Regions from separate parts of the Homo sapiens genome. Here region 2 is reported to be linked to region 1. Evidence: microRNA targets listed by miRTarBase, many of them from high-throughput screens and not tested one by one. Region 1 holds a microRNA gene; the other region holds the end of a gene's coding sequence.
What was found. Region 1 holds the annotated microRNA hsa-miR-6758-3p (ACUCAUUCUCCUCUGUCCAG, at 2,164-2,183, shown strand). A microRNA usually pairs through its seed, bases 2 to 8, with sites in the 3' UTR of a target mRNA and lowers its output. Matches are read on the target gene's strand: a 7mer-m8 pairs with bases 2 to 8, a 7mer-A1 pairs with bases 2 to 7 and ends in A, and an 8mer does both.

Region 1 (5,000 bases):
TAAGACCAGCCTGGGCAACAGAGTGACACCCTACCTTAAAAAAAAAAAAGAAAATTTTTTTTTTCTTTTTTGCACTTCCTCAGCTGGCCATGGTGGTTCATGCCTGTAATTCCAGCACTTTGGGAGGCTGAGGCAGGAGGATCGCTGGAAGCCAGGAGTTTGAGAGTAGCCTGGGCAACAAAGCAAGACCCTGTCTGTATTTAAAAAAAGAAAAAATTGGTTGGGCACGGTGGCTTATGCCTGTAATTCCAACTTCCAACACTTTGGGAGGCTGAGGCGGGAGAATTGCTTGACCCCAGGAGTTTGAGACCAGGGTGGGCAACTTGGTGAAACCCATCTCTACTAAAAATACAAAAATTAACCAGGTGTGGTGGCACGTGCCTGTAGTGCCAGCTACTCAGGAGGCTGAGGTGGAAGGATCACTTAAGCCTGGGAGGTTGAGGCTGCAGTGAGCCATGATGTGCCACTGTACTCCAGCCTGGGTGACAGTGAGACCCTGATATGGACAAGATTAGCACATCCTCTGCACAAGAATGACATGCAAACTTGTGAAGTGTTCCATATTTTTAAAAATTAAAAAAAAAAAAATTTTTTTTAGGGACAGGATTTTGCTGTGTTGCCCAGGATGGTCATGAACTCCTGCCCTCAAGTGATCCTCCTGCGTCAGCCTTCGGAGTAGCTGGGATTACAGGCGCAAGCCACTGCCCCTGGCTGTGTGTTAAAAATCTAGTTAAGGCTGGGCAGGGTGGCTCACAACTGTAGTCTCAGCGCTTTTGGAGGCTGAGGTGGGCAGATTGCTTGAGCTCAGGAGTTCAAGACCAGCCTGGGCAATGTGGCAAAACCCTGTTTCTACAAAAATTACAGTCTGGCATGGTGGTGTGCACCTGTGGTCCCAGCTACTGGGGAGGTTGAGGTAGGAGGATTGCTTGAGCCCAGGAGGTTTAGGCTGCAGTGAGCTGTGATTATGATTGCACCACTGCACTCTAGTCTGGGCAACAGAGCAAGACTCTGTCTCCAAAAAAAAAGTTATATATTGCCAAATTGTGCTCCAAAAAGGTTATATGTGTTTATCCTTATGCTAACCATATATGAGACTTTCCTAAATCAGCCCTCTTTCTCCGTTATCTCAGCTGGAGAAGCGACTGGAGGAGTGGTTGGGGAGGACATTGCCTGGCAGTGACTGGACACCCAATGCCCAGTTTATCACCCGTTCTTGGCTTCGGGATGGCCTCAAGCCACGCTGCATAACCCGAGACCTCAAATGGGGAACCCCTGTACCCTTAGAAGGTTTTGAAGACAAGGTAAAAACCCTTTTTTATTCATATCATTCAGCCTTAGTGTTGAAACCCTGGGCTAGCAGAGTAGACTGCTGATTATGTCTTGTTTCAGTTTGAGACTTTGGATTGGTCCCTAACATGTTTACCTCCTTCTGACCTCCAGGTATTCTATGTCTGGTTTGATGCCACTATTGGCTATCTGTCCATCACAGCCAACTACACAGACCAGTGGGAGAGATGGTGGAAGAACCCAGAGCAAGTGAGCAGTTCTTGGTTAGGCTGTGCATGGGGAGGGTAGGCGGTAGGGTGTGGGTGTTAGGGTTGGGTGTCTGGTCTTCCTTGGGCCTTTGAAGGAGGTCTCAGGAAATCTCTCCTAACCACATTCCCCTAGGTGGACCTGTATCAGTTCATGGCCAAAGACAATGTTCCTTTCCATAGCTTAGTCTTTCCTTGCTCAGCCCTAGGAGCTGAGGATAACTATACCTTGGTCAGCCACCTCATTGCTACAGGTAAGTACCCTGGAAGACTACTGATGGGGTGTTCATAGGAAATGAGGGGTGAGGCAGTACTTGGAAAAAGATCTTGGAGAGCTGCTATCTTGAGTTAGGAGTTGAGCTGAAATAGGAAATAATTAAAATGAGAACTCAACCTAGAGAAACGAACAAGAACCTGAAGAAAGCAAAAGTCTAAAGCTAAAACTCTTTAGTAGATATAAGCAAAGAGAAAAAAGGGCCAGAATGGATAGGAAGGGACTCCCAAAATCTGAGCATACCAGCCCCTTAAGGAGAAATGTTGCTAGACACCCATAGTTGAGGTTAGAAAGAGGAAAGAAGGAAGAGTTAGTGGGCTAGAGAGGGGAAGGATGTGATGTGAGCAGATGGTTCTCACTCATTCTCCTCTGTCCAGAGTACCTGAACTATGAGGATGGGAAATTCTCTAAGAGCCGCGGTGTGGGAGTGTTTGGGGACATGGCCCAGGACACGGGGATCCCTGCTGACATCTGGCGCTTCTATCTGCTGTACATTCGGCCTGAGGGCCAGGACAGTGCTTTCTCCTGGACGGACCTGCTGCTGAAGAATAATTCTGAGCTGCTTAACAACCTGGGCAACTTCATCAACAGGTAGGACTTGGTAAGGGGTCAGAGTTAGCAGTGAGCTGGGGTGGGGCTCATTTTCCCTCAGGAGATGGGAATGTGGAGAGAACTAGAAAATGGGCAGGAGGCTGTGAGGACACTGTGGAAAGTTGATTTCTATTAATTGGGATCTGTTCCTAGCACATACTAGGCTATGTGTGCTTGATGGAACAGTTAGCTGTAGAGATGTGATTTAGCAAAGTTGGTTATAAAGTGGGTTTTTGTAAATTGTTTCCTTATTACTGTTCTTTGTAGAATTGAAGATGTATTCTCTCCCAGCAAAATAGTTCACCTGCAGATCATTGAAAAGTTTGGCTGAAGAAAGGGGTTATTTTGGTGTGGGGGTAGGAGGCTTCTGTGGGCTGGGCATGGTGGCTTACATTTGTAATCCCAGCACTTTGGGAGGCTGAGGCAGGAGGATCACTTGAGGCCGGGAGTTCAAGACTTGCCTGACCAACATAATGAATCTCCCATCTCTACAAAAAGAATCAGCCAGGCGTGGTGGCGCACACCTGTAGTCCCAGCCACTCAGGATGCTGAGGCGGGATGGTCTCTTGAACTTGGGAGATTGAGGCTGCAGTGGAGCAGTACTCGTACCCCTACACTCCAGCCTTGGCAAAAGAGGGAGATCCTGTCTCAAAAAAAAAAAAAAAAAAAGGCTTCTGCTATACTCTTCAGAGTTCAGAGTTTTTGTTACCTTAGGCTCACATTCTATCATTGGTGCCTATCTCAGCTCTTCTGCAATCTAAAGCAGTATTCTCCAGAATTTAGGATTCTTTAGTCACACTCTCTGAGCCCTGGACCCTTATAGGTCAGTCCTGCTACTCACTTTCAGCTTTGGTAATTAACCACATTTAATAAATAGTCCTTACCTACAGGAGTTCGAGACCAGCCTGGCCAACCTGGTGAAACCCCGTCTCCACTAAAAATACAAAAAGTAGCCGGGCGTGGTGGCGCACATCTGTAATCCCAGCTACTCAAGAGGTTGAGGCAGGAGAATCACTTGAACCCGGGAGGCAAAGGTTGCAGTGAGCCAAGATCATGCCACTGTGCTCCAGCCTGGGCAACAGAGTGAGAATCCTCAAAAAAAAAAAAAATTAAAAAAAAAAAAAAGTACTTGCCTAGAGTGTTTGTTTGATAGCAGTTAACACATACTCAGCTTGGTCATTTTGAGTAATGACTTTTTTTTTTTTTTTTTGAGATGGAGTTTCTCTCTTGTTGCCCAGGCTGGAGTGCAGTGGCGCGATCTTGGCTCACTGCAACCTCCGCCTCCCGGGTTCAAGCAATTCTCCTGCCTCAGCCTCCAGAGTAGCTGGGATTACAGGTGCACACCACCACGCCCGGCTAATTTTTTGCATTTTTAGTAGAGACGAGGTTTCACCATGGCCAGGCCAGGCTGGTCTTGAACTTCTGACCTCAGGTGATCTGCCCACCTCGGCCTCCCAGAGTGCTGGGATTTTAGGCGTGAGCCACTGCGCCCGGCCGAGTAATGACTTCTTAAAAATAAGAGGTACAGTTGTTTAACTTAATCAGGTTTCTTATGTGCAGAGTCAGATTCTTAGGGGAGAGAAAGAGTAAATAATTAGGCCTTGTCTACTAGCTTGAGGGAGCCAGGAGTTACCTGTTCCAGGCAGGAATCCTGAGAGAATGTACAGCTGTGGAAATTGGGTGAAATTCTAACAAGGAGACGGGATAATAACTTCCCCTCTTTTTTCCACTTCTGCTTTCCTACTCCCAACCAAGAGCTGGGATGTTTGTGTCTAAGTTCTTTGGGGGCTATGTGCCTGAGATGGTGCTCACCCCTGATGATCAGCGCCTGCTGGCCCATGTCACCCTGGAGCTCCAGCACTATCACCAGCTACTTGAGAAGGTTCGGTAAGTAACTGACACCTCTGTCTTTTCTGCTGGCATGTTGAGAGCCTCCTTGTATTGGTCTCTGTAGGACATTACACCTTGGCCTGCTTCCTCCCTTCCCAGGATCCGGGATGCCTTGCGCAGTATCCTCACCATATCTCGACATGGCAACCAATATATTCAGGTGAATGAGCCCTGGAAGCGGATTAAAGGCAGTGAGGCTGACAGGTAGGTAAGCGGGGAGGGTTGGCTAAAGGCATAAAGTGGCTTGTAAGCTGTATCCTCCTGGAGGTCTTGACTAATGTCTCCTCTTCCTCAGGCAACGGGCAGGAACAGTGACTGGCTTGGCAGTGAATATAGCTGCCTTGCTCTCTGTCATGCTTCAGCCTTACATGCCCACGGTTAGTGCCACAATCCAGGCCCAGCTGCAGCTCCCACCTCCAGCCTGCAGTATCCTGCTGACAAACTTCCTGTGTACCTTACCAGCAGGACACCAGATTGGCACAGTAGGTGGAAGAGCCAGCCTCTCTTAAAATTGATACTCTTGCCATGCAGCTTTTGGAGTGGGTGAGAGAAGACCTAACATCTCTCCAGTGTTACTTTGGTCATGGGACTCCTAAGTTTCTGATATAAAGTCCTTGGTAGTCGTTCACAAGTCCGGAATTATCTGTACATCTTCATTGTTCTTCATGCCAGAAACCAGAACCTGGCACACAAAACTAACTGGTAAACAGATA
Region 2 (5,520 bases), not on the chromosome of region 1:
GCTCTGCTGGGACTGTTGCCCAGAGACCCTACATGTGGCCTCTCTGTGACAGCTGGGTTCTAAAAGGGAATATCTGCAGACCTTCCAGAGGGCAAGCGTTTCAATAGACTGAAGAGGGAGCTGCAGGGTTTCTTCTGACTTAGCCTTGGAAGCCATACGGAGGCCCTCTTGCATTCCCCATGGGGGCAAATATTGGTTCTTGCAGGGTGGAAAAATATTTTTACTCTTTCTAGATACAAAACAGAGATATAGATGGATGGATGGATAGATAGATAGATAGGTAGATAGATAGATAGGTAGGTAGGTAGATAGATAGATAGATAGATAGATAGATAGATAGATAGATAGACAGGTGAATGGATGGATGTACAATACATCTTTGGTATTAACATTTCATGAGGGGAGATATTTAGGGATATTCTTTTTTTAGGGATATTCATTGTTATCTTAGGATAACAATGAAAAAATGTTGAGAAACACTGTTCTAGTCCACAAGTTGAAACAGTCACAACCCAGCCAGACCCAAGGGGAGGGGACCTAAGCCACAACTCTTCATGGAAGGAGTATCAAGAAATTTGCAGCCATGTTTTTAAACTGCCTTGTGGAAGAATCATAATGTAGCGCCTTCATGTCACATATAAGAATAGCGGGACGTGAAGGGGTGAAGCCACCTGGTCCCCAGTCACAAGGCCAGAGAGCAGAGTTGATTCTGCCTCTGAATGGCAGCCTGGAGCTGGCCCACACAGCATCCCTGCAGGCCCATCTGTGCACTTTAGAAGGTCACTTCCCAAGCCTGCTGGGGGCACCATATGGTCCCAAGAATAAAAATGAGGCCCTGAAACACCTATCCTTTACTCAGAGGTCACAGTCCAGCAGCCATTACTTGCACAGACATGTCTTGTTTGGGTTCAGTGGGTGAATGGTTAAACAAATTATTTTACACCCATGCAATGAAATCCTGCTGAGCAATAGGAAGGAATCAGCTATTGGTTGTGGTAAGTGCAACCACTTGTATGGATCTCAAGGCTCAGTGAATTAAAAAGTCAATCTCAAAATATTACATACTGCATAATTTCATTTGTCCTCAAAAGGATGACACTGTAGAGATGGAGAACAGATTAGTGGTTTCCAGGGGACAGGAATGGGATAAGGGTGCAAATACAAGGGACAGCATGAGGGAGATCCTTGTGATGATGGATTGGTTCTGTATTTTGACGGGGGTGGTAGTTACCTGGATCTGTAAAATTGCATGGAACTCTACACAAACATATCCATAAACCAATGTATGTTAAAAACGGTGAAAACTGAACAAAGTCTGCAGTCTAGCTAACAGTATTGTAACAATGCTGGTTTCCTGGTTTGGGTCTTGTCCTACAGTTATATAATACATCACCATTGAAAGACACTAGATGAAGGATTCACAGGACTCTATGTTATATTTGCAATGTTAAGCCTATAATCATTTCAAAATAAAAGTTTCAAAAATTAAAACCTCCAGGGGCTCCCTATGGCCTCCAGAACACAATTCAAACTTCTTGGTCTGCCATGAAGCCCTTTCAGACTGAGGCTCCAGCCCCATATCTCACTCCTCCCTCACATGCACTCTGCACACATGGTAATGGTAACGTAGCTCCTGAAGGTCCTGGTATCCACCATGCTCTATGACTCTTCCCTACCATTGTCTGGGACAATCATCCCCCAGTCTTCTGCCCTATTTTTATAACTCAAGCCCTCAATTTTCCTTCTCCGCTTGGCCCTCATGGGAGTGCCTCCCTTCTGTGCCCCCACAGAGCACTGTGCAGAACCCTGACACAAATTCTAACACACCGCATCGCTATTGTTAGTCTACATCTTAGACTTCCCTTCTAAAGGAGTAGGGACTCTGCATAGTTTAAGTCCTTATCTGTAATGCCCAGAACAATGCACCATAGACACACAATAAAAGTTTATTGAATGAATGAGTAAATAAAGGGAAAAAAGAAAGGAAGAATAGGGGAAAAAAAGGGAGTAAGGGAGAAGGGAAAATTCAAAGCATGGAGAAGCCACTGTTTGTTTCTCCTGCACCTGCTGTCTGCCATCTGTCTACTCTTTCTTAACTCTTCTCTTCTGGCTTCTGCTGTCATTGCTCTGTTGATCTGCTCTTCTGAACTTCATTAGTGACCTTGTGAATGATAAGTTCAATAGCCTCCTCTCAATCCCGGTCCTCCTCCACCTCTCTAGCTCTGCTCTCCTCCTTGAAACATTCATGGCTCTTGACTTCTCATCTTCCACCTGTTTGATTCTGCTCCAGCACCTTGATCAATGTCTTCCTCCTACCCTTTGTCTTTAAATGCAGGTGCCCCGAGGGCTCTGTCCTTGGTTCTGAACTCTTCCCTCCATGTTTTCACTTCTTGCTGGGTTCCAGTTAATCTCTCTACACACATTCCTCTCCAGCCCTCAACACTCTGCTAACCCACATCTCTAGCTATCTGCTAGACCTCTCTGCCTGATGATTCCAAACACACAGAAAACTAAGCTCTGCATCATCCAAGCCTGCTCTTGACTTTCCTACTTCTGTCAATGATGCCCGATTCCTCTGGTTTTCCAGGCTTAAGACTCCGGACTCCCAGATTCTTCCTTTCAGACTTTGCTACATCTGCTAGGCAAGTCCTCCTAAAGCACATCTGCAATCCCATCTTGTTCTGCTCAAATCCATCCCACCATAGCTAATCAAAGTTTAAGTAAGAGTTGAGTCCTAAGCCTCCTGAACCTGCCACCACCTGAGTTCTTCTAGATTAGTTCCATCTGGCCTGCCACAGGAAAATTTCACTCCATTGGAATCTTAGACACATCCTACCATGAGCATCTGTATGTGAACAGTACAGTCCATTTGCTGATAGGTCTTCTATAAGTGACTATTGTTATGAAGATTATTTCCCGCCTCTCTGCTTTCACTTATGCTGTTTCTCTGTCCTCTCTCTCTCCCTGTTGCTCCATCCCTGCTCCGCTGAAATCCTATACCTCCTTCAACATCAACATGAATGTCACCTTCTTTCCCTGACCTGGCCAGCTTGGCATGATATTCTCCTCACCAACCCCCTGACATCAGGAAGCATCTCTTGTGGCTCTAGAGTTCTTCCTATGCTGTAATGACTTGGGAGCTTATCCTTCTCATAAAATGAATCATAAGCTCCTTTCTTGCTCATCATCATATTTCCCGGGTTAATATAATTAATATGGGCCTTGTTAGATTGAATTTCTCTTTCAGCATGAGTCCTGGGCCAGCCCCATCTTTCCCCTAGTCACCATGCATGATGGAGCTGGGAGCCCCACCAGAGCTCAAGTTCAGAGCACGGCAGCTCTGCCTAAGCACTCGGCACTCAGAGGGTCACTCCATGTGCTCTGGACACTGGCATCACTAGCTCAGGATGAGCTCAGGCCTGGGGGCAGAGGGGGAGCACTGGTCCAGATGTAGGTAGCAAGTGGAGATGGTGATGCTTGCTTGTGGCAGACTGTGGGAGTCCTCCCCACAAACTTTAGGGAAACAGAGTAATTGACAAACATTCAGAAAACCAACTGAGCTCATTCCCGAGCCAGGGGTCACCAGTAGTGGTGATAGCACTGTGCACTTCAAGTGTGGACAAGTATCCTTCACCTCTGTGCCCTCCATCCTGTCTTTGAAAAACGATATCTGCTCTGCCTGTGGAAAAGGTTAATTGCTAACAGGTGGTCTCAGCCAGACTTCTAAAGTGGACAGAACTGACTCTGTTGACCTTGTGCATTGGACACCTCCAGGTGGGGGAATTCCAGGAGTGATATCAGGGGCACCCACCAGCTCCTTCTCCCTTTACTGTTTCAACTCGCCCCAGAACTTTAACCTGGAGCAGCTCATCCACGGCCCACCCAGGCAGAGATGTTCTGAGCCCAGCCACACACTGCCTGGTTACAGGGAGAGAAGGGGCCTTAAAGCCAGGGAGACCCAAGGGGCGTCAGAAGACGAGAGGAGCCCTGAGCATGTGGGACACTGGGCAACTGCATGAGCAAGCTCTGCCGGGACCAAGCTCCCTTGGGGTTGTCCCAGAGAAGAGATGGAGCTCTGTGAGCCTAAAGGCTGGGGCTGTGAGGGGTGTGTCCTCAGGGAGACTCCTGTCTGCAGGAAGGAGGTAGTTATTGCCCTGGGGGAAACTGGCCTGAGAAGCATTTGTGCCAAGAAGAATGAAGGGCCAGGCTCCTCCAGAAAATTTTTTCCCTCCCTTCCTCCGTCCTTTTCTCTCTCTCTCTCTCTCTCTCGCTCTCTCTCTCTCTCTCTCTCTGTCTCTCTCTCTCTCTCTCTCTCTCTCTCTCTGAGACAGGGCTCTCTATGTTGCCCAGGCTGGCCTGGAACTCTTACGTTCAGCCGATCCTCCTGCCTCAGCCTCCTGAGCTGGGATTATAGGCACTCGCTATGGTGCCCGGCCAACTTCCAGGGAATTCTTGCCCTTGGGAAGTGGGCATGAGGGCAGGGAGGCAGGGGACTGGGGAGGAGAAAGGAGGACCCCCAAGCTGCACATTGAGGACTCCAGAGGAGTGTCCTCTAAGAGCCAGGACCCTCCTTTGAGGCACAGGAACAATAAATCCCTCCAGAGTCCACAGGTCTCTCGCATCCAGTCTGAAAGGTTGACTCCCTGCACGGGGCACTCCTGGGGATGGGGCTCTGCAGGGCTTCGGGTCAGCCTGGCTCTATCTTCCAGGAGGAGCCCACTGAGGCCTGTTCACCCAGAAGACAGCACCCAGCATGCTCAGGAGCAGGGGCAGCTTCAGAAGGACCACGAGCAGGAAGTGAGGGCTGCTGAGCCGGAACCTGTGGTGGACACGGTGAAAATGAGTCACTTCCCCGGGAGAACCCCCAGGACCCTTCTCTCCCCACCTCTCCCCATGCTCTGACTCTGGAGCCCAAATAACCCAGGAGCAGCCAGGGAAAGGACCTATGCCAGGGCAGCCCCTTCTGTGGCCCCCATCCCTCCTTCTCCCTCCATCAAGGACTGCCCGGGGGGTCTCATCAAGGAGAGGTGATGGAGTGAAGACAGAAGAGGGACCCACTTCCAGGAGTGCGCTCCACAGCACCCTCTCTGTCCCTGTCCCACTCACAGCCTCCACTTTATCAACTGACTTCTTAAAACCAGTCCCCACTCTCGCTTTTTTTATTTTCTGAGACAGAGTCTCACTCTGTCACCCAGGCTGGAGTGCAGTGGTGCAATCATGGCTCACTGCAGCCTTGACTTCCTGGGCTCAAGTGATTCTCCCACCTCAGCCTCCTGAGTAGCTGGGACTACAGGCGCACCACCACACCTGGCTAATTTTGTATTTCGTAGTAGAGACAGGGTTTCACCATGTTGCCCAGGCTGGTCTCAATCTCCTGGACTCAAGTGATCCACCGCCTCGGCCTCCCAAACTGTTGGGATTGCAGGCGTGAGCCACCACACCCGGCCACCACTCTCACTGTTCCACTCCAGCTCCTTGTTCCCTCCCCTCAGGGTCTAGCAGCAATATCACAGCCCTTTC

Region 2: miRTarBase lists CD300E as a target of hsa-miR-6758-3p. Seed matches in the 3' UTR shown: 7mer-m8 at 3,561-3,567.

The regions. Positions count from the first base shown.
Region 1 is chr12:57,510,568-57,515,567 of GRCh38, forward strand. It overlaps MIR6758 (microRNA 6758), which reads left to right and starts at 2,121; the gene lies at 2,121-2,183. MARS1 (methionyl-tRNA synthetase 1) reads left to right here. Exons shown (of 21, transcript NM_004990.4): 12 at 1,131-1,301; 13 at 1,441-1,536; 14 at 1,669-1,786; 15 at 2,184-2,397; 16 at 4,153-4,284; 17 at 4,387-4,491; 18 at 4,583-4,769. It also overlaps the pseudogene LOC124903093.
Region 2 is chr17:74,607,955-74,613,474 of GRCh38, forward strand. CD300E (CD300e molecule) reads right to left here. Exons shown (of 4, transcript NM_181449.3): 4 at 1,931-4,819. The coding sequence ends at 4,699. The region is part of intron 3 of LOC101928343 (a long non-coding RNA gene); the gene reads left to right. Among named protein-coding and RNA genes, the nearest start is that of CD300E, 13 kb to the right of the region's middle.